Regions from separate parts of the Homo sapiens genome. Here all the other regions are reported to be linked to region 3. Evidence: microRNA targets listed by miRTarBase, many of them from high-throughput screens and not tested one by one. Region 3 holds a microRNA gene; each other region holds the end of a gene's coding sequence.

Evidence for each region. Region 3 holds the annotated microRNA hsa-miR-6801-3p (ACCCCUGCCACUCACUGGCC, at 1,736-1,755, opposite strand). A microRNA usually pairs through its seed, bases 2 to 8, with sites in the 3' UTR of a target mRNA and lowers its output. Matches are read on the target gene's strand: a 7mer-m8 pairs with bases 2 to 8, a 7mer-A1 pairs with bases 2 to 7 and ends in A, and an 8mer does both.
Region 1: the mRNA of PFKL is a reported target of hsa-miR-6801-3p. Seed matches in the 3' UTR shown: 7mer-A1 at 2,736-2,742.
Region 2: the mRNA of CPE is a reported target of hsa-miR-6801-3p. The part of its 3' UTR that is shown has no 7-base or 8-base seed match.
Region 4: miRTarBase lists ROBO4 as a target of hsa-miR-6801-3p. Seed matches in the 3' UTR shown: 7mer-m8 at 1,062-1,068.

What each region holds. Positions count from the first base shown.
Region 1 is chr21:44,325,363-44,329,848 of GRCh38, reverse strand. PFKL (phosphofructokinase, liver type) reads right to left here. Exons shown (of 22, transcript NM_002626.6): 20 at 3,789-3,888; 21 at 3,585-3,690; 22 at 2,476-3,134. The coding sequence ends at 2,987. It overlaps CFAP410 (cilia and flagella associated protein 410), which reads left to right. Exons shown (of 7, transcript NM_004928.3): 7 at 1-905. Among named protein-coding and RNA genes, the nearest start is that of CFAP410, 12 kb to the left of the region's middle. RefSeq lists an enhancer at 201-330 and a silencer at 1,289-1,583.
Region 2 is chr4:165,497,399-165,500,398 of GRCh38, reverse strand. CPE (carboxypeptidase E) reads right to left here. Exons shown (of 9, transcript NM_001873.4): 9 at 1,852-2,887. The coding sequence ends at 2,789. Among named protein-coding and RNA genes, the nearest start is that of MIR578, 110 kb to the right of the region's middle.
Region 3 is chr19:52,216,403-52,223,828 of GRCh38, reverse strand. It overlaps MIR6801 (microRNA 6801), which reads right to left and starts at 1,809; the gene lies at 1,731-1,809. PPP2R1A (protein phosphatase 2 scaffold subunit Aalpha) reads right to left here. Exons shown (of 15, transcript NM_014225.6): 9 at 7,166-7,300; 10 at 3,965-4,138; 11 at 3,580-3,640; 12 at 2,696-2,850; 13 at 1,588-1,730. RefSeq lists an enhancer at 1,070-2,269.
Region 4 is chr11:124,881,092-124,885,095 of GRCh38, reverse strand. It overlaps ROBO4 (roundabout guidance receptor 4), which reads left to right. Exons shown (of 18, transcript NM_019055.6): 17 at 1-55; 18 at 183-1,405. The coding sequence ends at 205. ROBO3 (roundabout guidance receptor 3) reads right to left here. Exons shown (of 28, transcript NM_022370.4): 28 at 3,625-3,857. The coding sequence ends at 3,846. Among named protein-coding and RNA genes, the nearest start is that of ROBO4, 15 kb to the left of the region's middle. RefSeq lists a silencer at 2,029-2,323.

The DNA.
Region 1 (4,486 bases), not on the chromosome of region 3:
TCCTGAAAGCAAGGGCCGTTTCTCCACAGAATGAGGAGGTCTTCACGGATGGCTTTGCCGATTCCAGCCCTTGGTCCTTGGATAGATTTCTGTTGGGCAAGGGAGACTTCGAGAATGCTGGCACCCATAGCGACATCTGCCCTGAGCTGCTCAGCAGGCAGGCAGCAGCCTCCCGCACCCATGGGAGAGAGTTTTGTTTTCTTGGCCGGGCTGGGCAGGTGCGCCTTCCTTTCTCTCTCCTGTGAAGAACTGCAGGAGGGCCCTCAGCTGTGAGGTTGTGGATGAACAGGCCTGTTCGCCCTGGGGTCCGGGCCTGGCACAGGAAGCAGCTAGACTAGGGGAGTCCTTGGAGCATCTGAGAGGGGTTTTCTTTCCTCTGGGAAGAGTCGCAAGTCTTATGAGGATGCCACAATCTGGGCAGTGACCCGTGGCCCTGGGGACCTTCCTAGTGCCCCCCAAAACCAAGGAAGCATTCACGTGAGATGGGGAGTCAGCCTTCCAGCTGGTGTGTAGGAAAGCCAGGTCCCTGGGCCCTTGTCCCATGTGGGGTTGAGATCCAGATCTCCATGAGATATTCCCATCCTCCGCCGAGCGGTGATGCGTGACCGTGTGTGCAGGCCGCTGTTCTCCCAAGCTCGGGGCCATGCCGTGCCACCGTCACCAGAGCCAGCTGCAGCACTGGGGCAGCCACTGTCGCCGGACTTGGGGAAGCCCAGGGTGAAGACAGTCACTCATCCGTGCAAGCTCTCCAGAAGGGATGCAAGCTCTCCAGAAGGGGTGTGATCTCTGAGCAGTGGGGAGTGGAGTCACCACTCGGGACATAGAGGGTGGACAGTTCAGGCCTGTGTCTGCCTCCTTGGGACTGTGGAGTGGGTGCCCTCAGTAAAGCGCTTTGTTGGAATGGTTGAGGTCGTTTTAAATTGAGTCCCTTCCACTTCCCCCGACATGGGCTGCCGTGGACATGCGGGGCTTACACCAGCGCCCTCCTGCCCCACATCATGCACACCTTGGGTGGGACCTGTGGGGGCAGCTGCCTGCCTTCAGCCCCACGGTTCCCCCTACCCCGTCCCCACCATTGCCGCCTCCTGCCTGTTCCCCTCCCGGCACCTCCTCACCCAATGCACCCAGCCATGGAGGACAGCCAGAAGCACGTCCAGCCCGGGGCACCCCACAGTCCCACTCCACTCCTCCCCAAGTCACCCCAAAAATGGGTTCTCAAGCCGAGCAGCACTGGCATCACACTCTGTCCCATTCACCCAGTTCACAGGAGAGGACCAAGGGCCCAGGAGGTCGCGTCACTCTGCCCGAAATGCCAGAAACGCCAACTCCACGCAGCCAGAAGTGGGCCTGACGCAGGCGCTCGCCACACCACGTCGCCCAGGAGGGAGGCAGCCACTGTCCCGGGCATCAGCCACAGGCGACCACCTGGGTGCAGCAGCTGAGTGGCAGCTGAACAGGTTCTAACACCTCATCAGGCAGGGCAGGCCGAGGGGGTCTACTCAGAACTGAGTCCTGATCCCAGACGGTGTGACACAACGGAGGCCCCCAGAGCATGCCTGTGTGGTTCCCTGGGCCTATGAACCTGTTTCTCTCTTCCTTTGAGACAGAGCTGCAGACCCCGGAGCACTGTCCTTGGACAACTGTCCACTCCTGGGCCTGGCCCCAGGATGGCCCAGCTCAGAATGAACTAGAAGGCCACTAGGTGTGGGCCCCTCCACCCCAGCTCGAGTTAAGCAATCTGGAGGCCTCCGGCACTAGGGCCAACACAGTGAGGGGCTCTTGGGAATATCAAGGTGCCCGAGGGCAAGAGGGTCCCCAGCCCCTTCACCAGGTCCCTAGGCCACCCCACTGGCCTGAGCTCAACCAGGAGACTGCCCAGGGGCCCTCAAAGTGGCCCTTAGGCCCCTCCAAGCCAGGGTCTCCCTTGAGACACCTCCTGTGTCCCAAAACCACATCCCCAGGGTGGCACTGCGGGCAGGAAGCAGCCCTCTTGGGCAAGCACCTCCCACGTTCATGATGCAGAGCGCAGGCTTCGACGCTGAGGTTAACAGGCATCCTGCAAGCAGGGCGTCCACCACCCCGTAGCCGCCTGCAGGACTCAGCCCTAGCCCCTGGTGGGCGCAGCTCTGCGCTGCCTTCTTTTCCCCTCTTGCGTGTCCACCATCAATGTCTCCTGGATACTGGCTCAAGCCAGCCACCAGCCTGCAGGTTGGAGACCCCCACTCAGGCTGAGGTTGGGGAGACAGAGGAGTGAGGCTGTACCCTTCTGCCCCCAGGGGAGGACCAGGAGGGGCTCAGGTCACCCTGGTGGCCCCCAGGGAGTCCTGGAGAGCACCTGTGGCCTCTCAGGGCACATGTCCCTTTGACCTGGCCCAGGCACTGGCCAGAGGGCCCTCCACCCCTGGGGCTGCTGCCCACTGGGCTGGCCGCTCGGTGCTGCTCCCCCCTCTCTCTGAGGAGTTCTGCAGGCTGTGCTCTCCGGAGACCGATGCACCCCACAGTCAGGGTGATTTTATTTCTAGAAAAGGTGACAGGTGCTGCACGTGGGCAGGAGCAGGTCACAGTGAGGCAGGGCCAGGGGCATCCCCCTCTCAACACAACCTAGGCGCCAGCAGCCTACCGGCCAGGTAGAGCAAGGGCTGGCCCATGTAGTGAGCCCAGCATGGGGAGACGCTGAGGGCCCATGGGGCGCCAAAGCCAGGGGGCAGCAGCCTCCAAACACCGACAGCGCCACGTCCCCTGGGCAGGAAGGTGGATGCCCCAGGGCACTCTGTCCTCCTGCTGGAGGGCCTGGCAGGCTGGTCTCAAGACACCAGCCCGAGGGAGGCCTGGCAGGTGGCCAGGGATAGAGGCAGGGGATGGGCTGAGCAGGGACGCAGCCCCCACCTGCCTGCAGGCTCCAGACACAACAGCCCAGGCCCCATCTGAGCCCTGGCGCTGCGCTGGCATGGGTGGGGGCTGGGGAGGGGCGTGGGCATGGCTGGCCTCAGAAGCCCTTGTCCATGCTCAGGGTGCGGCGGGTCACGTGCTCCAGCTCCCCTGACACGTAGGCGGCCATACTGATGCGGTATTGTGCCAGCATCTTCAGCATGAGCCGCAGGCTCAGCCACCACTGCTCCCGTGGCATGCGGTGCCTGTGCAGGACGGGGATGGGAGGATGATGGGGAGTCAGGGGTCAGGGCAGCTCTTCAGCCACGTCCCCAGCCCCCCCACCCCCCCCGACCCTGCAGCCTGTGCATGCCCCTCTGTCTGAACATCTCGGTATCCGTGGAGCTGGGACAGGTCTGGGGTCCCCATCCCTCGGAGGCACAGCACAGAGTCAGCCTCAGCCGCCCTCAAGCGTGCCCACTCCTGGCTACCCGCTGTGCCCCCATGCCCACCCGAAAGGATTGCCCAGTGTTGTGCTCAGAAGACTTGGGCATGGTCCCTGCTCTCCACGGCCTGGCGGGGACCTGGGCATGGGGGCCCAGGAGGCCTTGCGGGGTCAGGGTGCCAGTGGGGCTGGGCCTGGCACACCTGCCTCAGGGAAGGTCTGGGCCACCCCTCAGCCCCACCCGCCTCCACGAGGCTTTGGTGGAACTCACTCGAAATCAGTGTCTTTCTTGAGCTCAGTGACGGGGCTGAAGGCCACCGCCTTCTTCTTCAGGCCGATCACGCAGGCCGAGTCTGGGGCATTGGCGAACACCCGTCCTGCAAACAGAGGCACGTGGCAGCCCTCCATGGTGAGGCCCTGCCCCAGGGAGCCAGGGGAGGGCAAAGTGAGGCCTCGGGTCGCACCCACCACCTACCCTTGCGGTAAACCTCGCGCAGCTTCTCCGACAACCACAGCATGGCCTTCACCCCCAGCTTGGTCCCATAGTTCCGGTCAAAGGGGGTTGGAGCGCCACCCTGGAAACAGGTGAGGCCCGGTTCCCTGGACTCCCCTGGGCTGCCTGGGCCAAGGCCAACGCCAGTGCAGACAGGATCCCCACGGGGAGCCTCCCAGGCAGCTTGTGAACACCCATTCCTTCCAACCCGTGCACCGTTCCCGTCTGTTCCCGATCGAGGACCCTGCCTGCTCTCTCCAGCTCCAAGTCCAGGCCAGAAGCTGCCTCCCGAGGCCGGCAGTCGGCTGCCCCTGGCCAAGTCAAGTGACTCCTGGGCCCTGCATCGGCAGCCAGCGGCCCCACCTCGGGCCCCATCACCTCGGGCCCCATGCCCAGCCACCCTGACTCCCCTCCCTGGCTCAGAAAACCCCAGGACGCGGGCTTCCTGCAGGGCCACCATAAGGCAGGGAGCATGCGGGGATCTAGGTGAGGGGTTCGGCGGAAGTGGCCGCGGGAGGCCTGGCAGGGGTGGGGAGCTCGGCTCAGCATGTGAATGCCCTGGCTCGGGCCCCGGCTCCAGCCCCAGCCCCACCCCTTCTTGAAATGAGACCTCACCTAGATACAGGCCTCGGTCCCCTCACTGGGGAAGGGCACACGTGCCCGAGGGCCTGCCGGGAGTG
Region 2 (3,000 bases), not on the chromosome of region 3:
TGGGAGGCCGAGGCGGGCAGCTCACAAGGTCAGGAGATCGAGACCATCCTGGCTAACACGGTGAAAACCCATCTCTACTAAAAATACAAAAAAATTAGCCGGGCGTGGTGGTGGGGACCTGTAATCCCAGCTACTCGGGAGGCTGAGGCAGGAGAATGGCATGAACCCAGGAGGCAGAGCTTGCAATGAGCTGAGATCACGCCACTGCACTCCAGCCTGGGCGACACAGTGAGACTCCGTCTCAAAAAAAAAAAGAAAAGAAAGAAAGCTCTTGCCAAAGTGTAGAATGAATTCTGAAACCAGAAACATTTTCCACCCCCAAAATAGGAGGCCCATAAAGTATTTGCTCGGCAAGATTTCTGAGTTGCTGCAGGCCTGAATGCTGGGCCCCTCTCATTCCTCACCACTGTGGAAGTGTTTCCTCACATTGTCTTGATCCTGTTCTACCACTGCACACTGCGGGTGAGGGATGCATTTTACCTGTCTTCTTAGTTTACTTGTCCCTGAAACAGGACTGGCCATGTACAGACCTGACATAGAGACTATTGTGAGATCACTCAGAGATCCTGAAATTGAAGCTCAAAGCCATGATTTGATGTGGCTGTAAATCGTCTCCCTTGCAAAGTGAGTCCTACTTTTGGAAACAGGAGAGCAAAGTTGTGTTGGCACCAGAGAGAGGACTACGGCAGTGACAATGCTTACCAAACATTGTGGTTAGGCAAGGCCATGTAACTAGCTCTGACCTGTGGGCTGTGGGCAGTAGTGGCCCCAGTTATCTTCTTCTGCGACCAACACAGGAGACTGAGGAAACCTTGTGCTGAGATGGCAGAACCGCACGTGGAAACATTCTACATAATTGTGTCACAGCATGCAGCGCAAAGTTCCTGGAGAGTTACGTAGACCTACAGACTTTGCATGAAAAATCAATTACTATTAAGTTAGAACGCTAAGATTTGGAGTTGCTTCTTACGGCAGCATACTCCAGTCTATCCTATCTTATCTAAACCTCAAGAAGCAAAATTTTGAAGCTCTTCAGAGCTCAGTTTCAATCTCATTTTTCTTCTCACTGTGGGCTTCTCTTAGGCAATTGTACATCTGTCCTTCTTCAATCTCCATCAAGCCATGTGTTTCCTACCCCAATGCCTTTGCATCTGCTATTCTGTCCCAAAGTCCACTTCTCCTCACCTACCTGGGTACACTTCTAGACTACCTTTCCCAGACTCCCTTGCAGTTACTGTGGCCAAAGAATGTACAATTCCAGGCAGTGTGATGTGAACAGAAGTAATGTACACCACTCCCAGGCCTGCCCATAAGAACACCCTCTACATTCTCCCCCTTGCTCTTTCCCCTTTCCTATTGGCTGCAATGGAGACGACCACCAATGCGGCAGTGTTGGACGTGTGCAGAAGATGGCAGATCTTCTGTCAGAATGGATCCCAGAACGTGGTCCCAGACTGTGTGAAGAAAAGTCACCCCATCTTTCTGTCTTTTTCCAGTATAGGTACCTGAGCAAAAAATACACTTCCATTGTGTTTAACCCAGGATATATGTGGGGGCCTACTATTATAACAGCACGATTTTAACCAAAACTTACACTTGCAGCATTGATCAACCATACCACCACCACCATGCACACACACACACACACACCCCTGCACTCTGCACTGCTCACACCCACTCAATATTCTAGGTCTGTGCATTAAGATGCATCCCTGACTCTTCTCATCCAGTCTAATTTAAGTTGCTCTGTCATTCTTTCTCTTTCCCTACTCTTTCTTGTCATTTTACTTATCACAATGCATAATTACATATTAACCAGTGTGTTACTGATTTAGAGTTTGTGTCCAAACATTAATTTTTGTGTTATTTATATAAAGGTTGTGCCCAAAATCAGAACCTTTTGCCTGCCACAATAACATACATAGAGGCTATGCAGTGCTTAGCACACAGTAGTTGCTTAACAAATTTTAAAATGTACAGGATGAATATATGAGAAGCCGCCATTAAGAGGATACATGTTTTCATCATAAGACCACAATGCCAGACCAAAAATCTTAGAGAACTGAAATACATGCACTGGGGATTTTTTTTTAACCTTTATTCATTCAGAATGCAATTCTGGGCCACTCTACAACCAAGAGAAAACCCTAAACTTTTAAGTAGTGTTAACGGACTACATAATATAATAGTATTGCTCCTATATGTACAAGCAAGAAGTCAATTTTTATTCTTTTCATAAAACCTCTTTGTAAACATGTACCTTTTCTTCCCATCAAAAATGCATTAACAAGATCATGCTTATAGTTAGTCAGCACAAGAAAAAAACGACAATTTATACTGAACTATTTAAGTCTTGCAGTAGAGTGCTCACAACTCCGAGCTGTATCTGTTAACCTTTTCAATAGCATTCATTATGTGACATTGTCACCAATTACAGTAAAAGAACTTCACTAATTTTTGAAAGCTAGAATTACTCAAAAAATTCTGCATTGTAAATAATACCAGGAATATTGCATTTAAGCCTAGGATGGCAAAATTACTTAAATCTTTTCTATACTTTTTTGTGTAATATAGGTAGGAAAATGAATACTATATAAGAGAATGAAATATATCAAGTTCTTATATTTTTACCTAAGAGGCTATTTATTTTAAGGAAAGTTGATTAATATTTAAATGATTAAAAAATAAATCAATGTTAAGTATTAACTGCACAAAATCTAAAAAAAAGACCACATTACATCATACTACATTATATAGATAGATTTAAAGCAGCTAACTAGAAGCCTTTTTAAAAATTTAAAGTTTCTGACATCATTTTCCACCATTCCATCAATTCTTCCTTCTCCTCTTCTTTCCTTTCAGAAAATGACTCCAGTTCAAAATCAACCTAAAAGAGAAAATCAAGAACATATTATTATCAAACTGCATGTGTTTTTTTAAATTGAAATAAAAAAATAAGAGCAGTTTCAGTATACACTCAATCCAGCCACCTGAATTAAA
Region 3 (7,426 bases):
AGCTTCACCAAATTCCACTCCAGATCCACTCCCGTTTTCAGAGTGATCAAACCCTAAATGTACAGCCCCACGTGCAATGGATGAGAGTTCCAGCTCTTCTATGTCTTCACCATTTGCACCACTGAGTCTTTTTTAATGTTGGCTGTTCTGGGAGGCGTGTAGTCATATGTCACTGAGATTTAATTTGCATTTTCCTGAAGGCTAATGATGCTGAACACCCTTGTCATATGCTTACTGGCTATTTGGAGATCCTTTTTCAAGTGCCTATTCAAGTCTTTTTCCCCATCTCTTTCTTGTCTTGCCTGATTTGTAGACAGGTATTGTGGATGAGTCCTTTCTCAGAAACATATATTAAAACATCTTCCTCCAGTCAGTGGCTTGCATTTTACTCTCAAAATGCTGTCTTTTGAGAAACAGCGTTACATTTTACAGAAGGTCAACTTACCCATCACTTCCTCTGGTTTGCTGTTTAACAAATCTGTGCCTACGCTAACTCAAGAAGATATTTTCCTACATTTTCTTCTAGGTCCTTTATTTTTAAAATCTTTCTGGTTCTGGTCTGTCATCTCAAATTAATTTGTTTATGCATTGAGGCGAGCCTTCTTTTATTCCTAAATGGATATCAAATTGACTCAGCTATGTTTTTTAAAAAACATACATTTCTCCACTGAACTGCAGAGATGCCTACTGTTAAACACATGTGGGACTGTTTCTGTACCCTTGATTCCATTCTATTGGGCGATTTAAATATGCTTGTGTTCACATCTATTTTAATTATTGTGGTGTCATAAGTCTTCGTCTCTGGTAGTGTAAATCAGACAACTTTGTTCATTAGAAGTGTCAATTTTCCACTAAAGAACCTGTTAAGATTATTGGGCTTATACTGAATCTAAAGATGAGTTCAGGGAACTGTCCCATCCGTGAATATTATGTAGGTCTGCTTTAATTTTTTTTGAGACAGTCTCGCTCTATCGCCCAGGCTGGAGTGCAGTGGCATGATCTCAGCTCACTGCAACCTCCACCTCCTGGATTCAAGCAATTCTCTTGCCTTCAGCCTCCCAAATAGCTAGGATTACAGGTGAGTGCTACCGCACCGGCTAATTTTTTGTATTTTTACTAGAGACGGGGTTTCGCCATGTTGGCCAGGCTGGTCGTGAACTCCTGACCTCAACTGATCCGCCCACCTTGGTCAGGTCTGCTTTAATTTCTCACATTAGTGTTTTACAGTTTACATTAGAGGTGTTACATACACATCTTTCATTGAATTTATTCCTGGCTATTTGATATTTTTGGTGCAATTATAAATTATACACATACTTACATATAAAACATAAGGTGATTTCATTTTCTAATGACTTGTTGCTAGTATACAGGACTGCCAACCCATCACCCCCTCTTTCTATTTCATGCTGTGATGTTCATTTTACAGTTGAGAAAACACACCTTGAGAAGGGAAGGGAGCCAAGGTCACACAGCAAGCAAGGAGCGCTGCCAGGCCTCTGACCCTGGGCTCTACCTTCAAAGGTCAAAGATTAAGGTGCCCACAAGAAGCCCCTGCCAGTGTGTGGGGGAGTATCCAGACCTCACCTGTTGTCCAGGATGGGCCCTATCTTCTGCAGAGACTTGGCCACATTGAAGCGGACATTGGCAACCGGGTCCCCAGCCATGCGCAGAACCGTGGGTAGCATGTGCTTGGTGGTGATGTCCTGCCCACAGACCTCAGACAGCACCTGGGGGCCAGTGAGTGGCAGGGGTGAGTATGCAAAGCTCCTGGCTAACTCTCATTTCCTGCTGCCTCTGACCAGGCCACTCTGGTGATCATCAGGCCCCACAGAGGCTGAGCAATACGGGTGACTCAGTTAGTGGAGTGAATCTCCCAACTCCACTAACACCATCCTAACACCATGTCCCAGTTTCTCTGTCCTCAGGCTTCCCTTAATTATTCTGGAGATCGACCTTAATTACCAAGCCCTAGGATCCCTCCTTAAAGCAATGCTCTCCAGAGAGTGGCGTGGGAAGAAATGATCAGAACACTTAGTTATATTTATTTTTAAATCCCTTCCTTTCTAGCCCTGTGTATGGTTTACACATAAATAAGTAGTACATGAGATAATTATAATCGTAGGAAAAGCAAATAGACAGGAGCACTTCCTACCTGTAGCATAACTGTTCTAAGCCCTGTGCGTGTATAACCTGATTAATCTTCACGCTCACCAGGCTGTGATTACCAGTATGAATTCTTTACAGTATGAATTATTTACAAATGAGAAGACCAAAGCATCGGTTAGGTAACTATCCAAGGTCCATAGCTAATATATGGCAGTACCAGAATTTAAAACTAGGTCTGACCTAGAGCCCATACACTCACCCAACGCACCACAGATAGAGACACACATTTCTCAGGGAAGGAGAGGGGTGCTCATAAAGCTTGAGATCGCTGCTCCAACAGGTCAAGTCTCCCAGGCCCTGGGTCCCTCACCATCCAAGTCCCCAGTCCCAGAGGCCCTATGACCCTGACCCTGGGAGCCCCACCCCCTTGCCTGCAGTTCCCCAAGGACTCATCTCTGGATAGAAGATGCACTCCATGTCTCCATTCCCAAGCCAGGTGTCTCCCTTGGGGAACCCTCTAGCATCCCTCCTCTCCCACGCGCTCCAGTTCCCTAGGGATGGGCCAGCAGGCAGGTGGAAGGCTCACATTGATGCAGAAGAGCGTAGTCATGCGGTGCAGGTAGTTGGGGTCTCCGGACATGGCCAAGACCTTGGGGATGATTGTGGCATGGGCCCACTCCTTCCCAAACTTTTCCACTAGCTTCTTCAGGTTGCTGGTGGCTGCCTCGCGGATGGCATATACTGCAGAAGGGTGAGGGTGAGAGAGACAGGGATTTGGAGGTGAAGAACTGATGTGGGCAAAATGTAGGTCACACTCACCATGGCTTACAAAGCAGCCCCTAGGTGCCAGGCTGCATGTGAGCCAAAGAGAGAAAAAAGGACTTACTATGTGCTATATCTAGTAACTGTTTTTTTTTATACAGTATCTTTTCAACCACTCCAAGAGGTAGGTTCCACTACTGGCTTCATTTTACAGATGGGCAAACTAAGGCTCTAAGAAGTGATTTGCCTAAATTATGTGGCACTTATTACTTCAAACAGGGCTTCACAGAGATAAATATTACCTTTTATTTTTTACCTCTCTTAGTGTAAACAATGAGCCATTCTCATAATGGCCCCAAGGCACCAGAATAAGAAGTTTCAAAGAATGAGTGTGGGGCTCATTCAAAGACAGCAGGTGACTTGTTTTAGATCTGACAGCCCCAAGGGCAGGATTCAAAACCCTGGTCTGGCTGCTCAGTGGCCCTCTGGCTCTCCACTATACCAGGCAACCCCTGGGTGATCTGTTTCGTCCTCCTCCCACTCAACACTTCTCTAGGACTCTAACAAGCATGCGAGCTGGTCCATACGAGCATCCAGCGGCGTGGGGAGTGACTCTAGCCTCCTCCACTGCCCGCCACAGCCCCAGCCAATCCATCCTGCCTTTCTGGAGCTCCCATCTCCTCTTGCTGCTCCTGTGAAGGTACTCACCATGATCCACAAGCCAGGCCATGCACAAGGAGTTAAGTTTCTCATCAAAGAACTCCACTCCCTACAGGAGAAACCAAGGGTTCCAAGGTAAGCGTTCCAGGAGAGCAAACAGGGGGAGCTGCTAGCCACATCCCATGGAACCTACACCCACCCTAGAAAGACCGGACACTTCTCAACTTTGTCTGAGGTGCTCCTTTCCCTCCTCTCTCTTATTGAATCCAATGCATCTTTTAAGGCCCTATTTCCTGGGTCCCTTCCTTCGACTCCCCAGGCAGTTGTCACAGCCTCCACTAAGCCTTCAAAGCCCCGTTTCCCCATCACAGCCCTGGACATACTGCACCTCCCCTGAGGCAGCACTGCCTGGCCCCCAGGCCTCCTCACTCACCAGCTGTCCAGCCAGGAGGGGCATGTACTCAATGATGGCCAGCCGCACCCGCCACTTGGCGTCCTCAGCCAGCTCCACAATGGCAGGGAGCAGGGACTGGGACAGCTGCCGGATGCCAATCACCTCGTTCACACAGTCCAGGTTAGAGATGATGTTCAGCCGTACCTCAGGGCACTGAGGAGAGGAAAGAAGGATTCTGAGAGAATGCAATGCACACAGCAACCCAGGACAGGATGGAAAGAGCTCAGCTGCATCAACTTTTATGGACATCTCCCGAGGGACTACTCCTGTCCAAGCCCAGCTCCCCGTTCTGGGAACACATTAACGGCACACAAAAAGCAAGCAGCATGGATCACTAACTTAAGCAGATTTTTAAACCTTACAATAGTATCACAAGAAATGTTTATCCATTTTGAAAAGACTTTAAGAATCACAGTAGGAAAATACAGCACCCTGGAAAAAACAGGCAGACATGATTCTTCTAATCCTAGCTCCGCTGCTTGCTAACAAGGGTTCCTTTCTGGGTATCAATCCACAACATGGGAGAAGGGAAGGAAGAAAACTATTTCCTTATTAAAACTATTTTAGTCTAAAAAAATAAATAAATAAAGGAGCACTGAAATGAATCAATAACCAAGTGAACAAGCCTGGCAGGCTTGGGCTGTTGAAACCCTGCACATTCCGAGGATAGGACTGGCCCTTGCCCAGCTCCAGCCCTTGCTGTGTGAGCCTCAAGCTGCTGAACATGTGCATGAGAAGAGAAGGCTCAGAGACTATACCTCACCCATTTAAAAAGACTTATTTTTGGTGCACCAGTAAAAAGGTAGCCTTTTTCATTTAGACAAGTTTATAAATTCTGGTGAGAGTCAAAATGTAAAATATAAAGTTTATAAATCTAAAATGGAAATCTCAAATATAAGTCAGATGAATTCCTCACACCAAGAAAACCATGCTGGTTCTTTTCTTCTAAGAGAAGCTGCCCTGAGACAGGCTGGCTGCCAGCACACGATTACCATATAGCGCTTGCTGAAGGTGAAACTGGAGCAAAAAATGCTCCAGTCCTAGCGCACTTGCAGCACGTATGGGCTTGCCTTCAAACTGGGCTGAGCCTGGATCCTTCCCTCATGCCAGAGGCAAAATGATCCCCAAAACGCTGGAGAGGTGTGAAATGACATAGCAGACAACTTGAGGGGCTCTCACCTGCCAAATTATGCCCATTAAAGCATCAAAAACAAATATAAATTGTATTAATATCTATAAAATTATAAAAACTATGTGCATGTGAAGCATAACTCAGATAAATTACTTAAGTCATAAAATTTGTCATGAACACTAATGAAGATTCAGACTTTTAGCAACTGACGTAATTAACTGATTAAAACCAGTACAGTTAATCACCCACTAATAGGGAAAAACAAAAAGAACAAAAAAATATTAAAAATAGCGCACTCTTTTCAATGTATTAAAAAATTCACTGTAATTCTGGGGCTAAGAGATTACTCCACTGTAACAGAATTGAATAACGTAACTTTTAGGGGCATGGAGGACTGAAATGTGATGCAGTACTTTCTGTTACAGTATTTCCTCCAACTTTCTAGCAGACTGTGTGGGCGCCTGTGTATAAAAAAGAAAGAAGGGGATGGGGAAGAAAGACTGAGGCTTTTGGGAAGCCTCACACACTTCCCATCTTTTGGGAAAGATGTCACACACCAGCACACAATTGCACCATCTGCCCAGTTTTTCACCACCAAGGCAAAAACCACCACGTGGTCCCTTCTGCCTCCTGAACAATCTTGAATCCTTCCGTATCAATGCAGCCTCATCTCTACATACCACTTAGTCTAGCCTCAGCCTTCCAGACTCCCACAGCCTCCGGTTTGGTCTGCCTACACTGCTGCTGGCCACCTCACTTCAATCCTTCCTTCACATAAGCCTCAGGGTGCCTTCTAACACCAACTCTATTCTGGCTCTTCCGCTTGCCCACAGTCAAGTCCAAACTCCTTCCCCAGTGGTCACCCTGATGATCTCTCCAGTCATCACCCAGCACCGCCTCTCATCCTTTGTAATACAGGCAACCTGAACTGCTGGGTGTGGTCACGTGACCCTCCTGGCCAATGGGTGTATGGGGTGCAAGCACATGTGAGGAATCTCGTCCTAGACTGTTATGAGAGAGAGAAAAAAAATCCACCACCGAATTTAAGCCAGAATGTATTCTGGGGTCTATATTAGAGCACCTTAGCCTAAACCCTAAAAAACATGAACTCATCCTTAACAGCACCTGTAACACCTTAATGGCATCATGGGACTGCCTGTCTCTCTCCACTGCCAGTCTCTGAAGGCTTTTGGGGATCAAAACTCTTATTCTAGGCTGGGGGCAGCGGCTCACGCCTATAATCCCAGGCCTTTGGAGGCCAAGGCAAAAGGACTGCTTGAGATCAGGAGTTCAAGACCAACCTGGGCAACATAATATCTTGTCTCTATGGAAAATGTTTTTTAAAATTATCTAGATGTGGTGGCTCTTGCCTGTAGTCCCAGCTACTTGGGAGGCTAAGGTGGGAGGATCACTTGAGCCTGGAAGGTGGAGGCTGCAGTAGACCATGATCACATCACTGCACTGCAGTGTGGGCAATAGAGCAAGACCCTATCTCAAAACATAAATAAATAATTTTTTTTTTGAGACAGAGTCTTGCTCTGTTGTCCAGGCTGGAGTGCAGTGGTGCAATCTTGGCTCATTGCAACCTCTGCCTCCTGAGTTCAAGTGATACTCCTGCCTTAGCTGCCCGAGTAGCTGAGATTACAGGCACTCGCCACCATGCCTGGCTAATTTTTGCATTTTTAGCAGACACGAGGTTTCATCATGTTGGCCAGGCTGGTCTCGAACTCCTGACCTCAGGTGATCCACCCGCCTCAGCCTCCCAAAGTGCTGGGATTACAGGCGTGAGCCACCGCGCCTGGCCATAAATAAAAACTTTAAATTTCTATTTTTCATATCCTCCATGTCCAGGAAAGGCCTCATGAAGAGTGCCTGGAGGAATGAACGCATGAACACACAGCTATGCCCACAAACATGCAACTCAGCAAAGATCTGGATGTCTGTTGAGATATCAGCAGATTCCTGGTCAATCTAGGTAAACCCTAGCAATCTAGGAAGACCCGCCTGTCCCCTCCACAAACCCAGAGCTGAGATCCTGGTGCCCTTACCTCATCCTTCAGCTGAGCCAGGAAGAGGGGCAAGAGGTGCTCGATGGTGTTGTCTTTGCCCAAGATGGGAGAGAGACCCATGATGACTGAGGCCAGGGCAGACTTGACATGTTGGTTGGCATCGGACACCAGCTCCTGGGAGAGAGAAGAGGCAGGCACAGGGGTCAGTGCAACCCCTGCAGCAGCAAGTGGCTAAGCAGATGCCAACTCCTAAGAGACAATAACCTGCTTCTGCCCCTCTCATTCATAGAGCAGGGGATG
Region 4 (4,004 bases), not on the chromosome of region 3:
TCTCAGATCTCTTCCCAGAGAAGTCAGCTCCACTGTCGTATGCCCAAGGCTGGTGGTGAGTGTCTGTCTTCCTGGCTAATGTGTTCATCTTGACCAGAGGGCCTCTGGGAAGAAGCCAGGAGGAAGCCTGGCACTGGGGAAGGGAGATAAGGAGCAAGGGAGATAACTCCACTGTCCTTCAGCTTCTCCTGTAGATTACTCCTGAACCGTGTCCCTGAGACTTCCCAGACGGGAATCAGAACCACTTCTCCTGTCCACCCACAAGACCTGGGCTGTGGTGTGTGGGTCTTGGCCTGTGTTTCTCTGCAGCTGGGGTCCACCTTCCCAAGCCTCCAGAGAGTTCTCCCTCCACGATTGTGAAAACAAATGAAAACAAAATTAGAGCAAAGCTGACCTGGAGCCCTCAGGGAGCAAAACATCATCTCCACCTGACTCCTAGCCACTGCTTTCTCCTCTGTGCCATCCACTCCCACCACCAGGTTGTTTTGGCCTGAGGAGCAGCCCTGCCTGCTGCTCTTCCCCCACCATTTGGATCACAGGAAGTGGAGGAGCCAGAGGTGCCTTTGTGGAGGACAGCAGTGGCTGCTGGGAGAGGGCTGTGGAGGAAGGAGCTTCTCGGAGCCCCCTCTCAGCCTTACCTGGGCCCCTCCTCTAGAGAAGAGCTCAACTCTCTCCCAACCTCACCATGGAAAGAAAATAATTATGAATGCCACTGAGGCACTGAGGCCCTACCTCATGCCAAACAAAGGGTTCAAGGCTGGGTCTAGCGAGGATGCTGAAGGAAGGGAGGTATGAGACCGTAGGTCAAAAGCACCATCCTCGTACTGTTGTCACTATGAGCTTAAGAAATTTGATACCATAAAATGGTAAAGACTTGAGTTCTGTGAGATCATTCCCCGGAGCACCATTTTTAGGGGAGCACCTGGAGAGATGGCAAGAATTTCCTGAGTTAGGCAGGGATCAGGCATTCATTGACACTCAGGGAGTGTCACACATTTCTGTTCTGCAATTAAAGGGAGAATGAGGTTCATCCACCAAATTTTAAGCAGAATATAGGAAGGGCAGGGGTGGGGAGTTTCAGGGTCTGCTGGTCCTGGCAACTTATATTAAATCCACCTCCTCAAGATAAGCCTTAGGGATATTTATGGCTGAGGGAAGTGGGATGGTCTAAGGCATGGGGAAGGGTGATTGGCTGTGGGGAAAATGAAGTAATAGGTTCATTCTGCCCAAGTGTACTTGGGGTTCATGGCATTTCATAAGGACATTTGTGTAGAAAATTGTTTTGCTGGCTGGGCACGGTGGCTCACGCCTGTAATCCCAGCACTTTGGGAGGCGGAGGTAGGCAGATCATGAGGTCAGGAGATCGAGACCATCCTGGCTAACATGGTGAAACCCCGTCTCTACTAAAAAAAAAAAAAAAATACAAAAAATTAGCCAGGCGTGGTGGCGGGAGCCTGTAGTCCCAGCTACTCAGGAAGCTGAGGCAGGAGAATGGTGTGAACCCGGGAGGCGGAGCTTGCAGTGAGCCGAGATCGCCCACTGCACTCCAGCCTGGGTGAGAGAGAGAGACTCGGTCTCAAAAAAAAAAAAAGAAAAAAAAAAAAGAAAAGAAAATGGTTGTGTTATGATCTGAGGGTGGAGTTTTTGGCCCTCCGATGTCAAAAGGCCACCCCTCGAGCACTTGCAGAGGCCCAGTAGAAAAGTCGGTGGTCTCGATTGGTTTGAGCTGGACAAGAGCTGTCCCAAGTTCCTGAAAAATGACTGTAGCGCCCATTCTCATAGTGACCTATGAATGTTACCTATAAAGTAGCCAGTGAAGGTTGTTTCCACATTCAGCAGCGAGGCCTTCAGCTACCAAAGAAGCTTTGTGCTCCATGGAAAAAGGGAAAAAACAAAAAGCAAGCAGGGCAGGCAGACTTGATCAAATTAACCCCTTGATTTCACCCATCCTGAGGAGAAAACTGCTTTCAGCAGTCCCAGATGGTTTCTTAAAATAGACAAAGCAGCTGAACTCCAGAAAAGGTAGAACCACCTGTCACGGTTGGCTTAGGAACACCCTTCAAAGAAAAAAACAGAACAGAGAGATGAACCTCGAAGCAGGACTTCCAGGGCCTGAGCCACAGGAGGCACTGGAGGGTAGGCAGGCCTGCGTCTTCCTCCCTTGGCGGGAAAGGTCGGGGGCAGAATCCACAAGTTGGTGGAGGGGATGCTACAGAGCATGACAGGGCCACAGGAAGCAGAGCCTAAAAGGGGGTGCTCATCCCTCAAACCCAGCAGCTCTACTTGGAGGCCACTGGGAGTTGAGAGGCTGAATGAGGCAGGACCATGGGGACTGGGGGCTTCCTGAACCACATTAATCAGGACAGTCTGGGCCAGATTTTTGTGATCTCAGGAGGAAGAATCAGTATTCCACATACACATCTGTTCCTCTGTATTTGCTTTTCCTTATCTGGATTTTGTGGCAGTTGCGGGGAGGAGGTTGTTTTGGTTTCTTTTTAGCTTCCTGGTAAAATTCCTTTTGAAAACATCCCAACCCTGTTTGCCAGACTGAAAGGGAAAGAGAGATTTGTACACTCACAGGTCAAAGGGGCAGACGAGGTCAGGGCCTGGGACTGGAGGGCAGCTGCCAATCCCAGAGAGTCCAGGGAAGTCACTGAGTCAAGGGTGGAGCAAGCGAGAAGGAACAAAACCTCAGGTCACCAGTGAGCACACGGGATGCAGGGCAGGAGGTGACGAGGACCACGGCATTCACCACAAAAAAGTCTTAACAGTTCTGTGCCCATCAACCCAATCACATCTGGGCCCACCAAGAGCTGCCCATTTGTACATACCCTCTGTGACGGAGTCAGATGGTTTGAAAAAGCATGCTCTTCCTTCTTGCCTGGGGTTTCTCCCATAAGCTCCTCCTTTCTTTGAGTTTTTCAAAATAATTTTTTGTGAGGGGTGTATTTTCTTGTGGGAAAGTAGACAGACCCCAGAGGAGGGCACTAAAGAAGGGCCTGGCTTGACCTTCCAAAGGTGGAACATGTGTCTTATTACTGGGCATTTGGAAAGTCTCTATGGTTGTAACTCGGGAACAGTGAGCTTCTTACTCCTTTAAGAAGCAGGACGGTACAGTCCCCACCTAGTGTTTTTTCAGTTTTTTGTTTGTTTGTTTGTTTTTGAGATAGGGTCTCACTCTGTCACCCAGGATGAAGTCCAGTGGCACAATCATAGCTCACTATAACCTCCAACACCTGGGTTCAGGCAATACTACTGCCTCAGCTTCTCAAGTAGATAGGATGACAGGTGCACACAACCATACCTGGCTAATTTATTTATTTATTTATTTATTTATTTGTGTGTGTGTGTGTGTGTGTGTGTGTGTGTGTGTGTGTGTGTGTGTGTAGACACAAGTTCTTTCTAGGTTGGCCAGGCTGGTCTCAAACTCCTGGGCTCAAATGATCCTCCTGCCTCAGCCTCCTAAAGCACTGGGATTATGAGTGTGAGCCATTGTGCCTGGCCTAACTTAGTGCTTTTGACGGAGTGGAAGGGGAAGCAGAAGCTACCAGTGTGCGTTGATATACAGGACCCTGCAGTCCCCTTCTTCCCAACCTGCTGCACAGAACCAGACAGACAGGGCCCTGGGCTCTGATCAGACTCTTTTTATTGTTTTGTTTTTTATAAACAAGTCTCAGGTGGAAAAAGAAAGAAAGGGAGGAGCTAGCTCTCTGCCTTCTCAGCCAATTGAAATCGTGGAAACCAATGGGCTTCAGCTAGCCCCACTCATCACTGCTGGGGGGGAAAAGACATCCCTACTCCCCTTCCCCGTGGCACTCATGATATTCTCAATGCCCCAACAAGGGTCATCTTGGTTCCTAGGGAGAGAGAGAGAGATGCTGTTTTGTAAAACCCTGGCCCAGGGCAAACAAGTCCAGGAAGGGCTCAGGCTTTCTCTCTCCTAACCCAGTTCTCCTACGGTGAGCCCAGGCTCCTCTATTATGTGTCATCTTGTCCTCACCCCT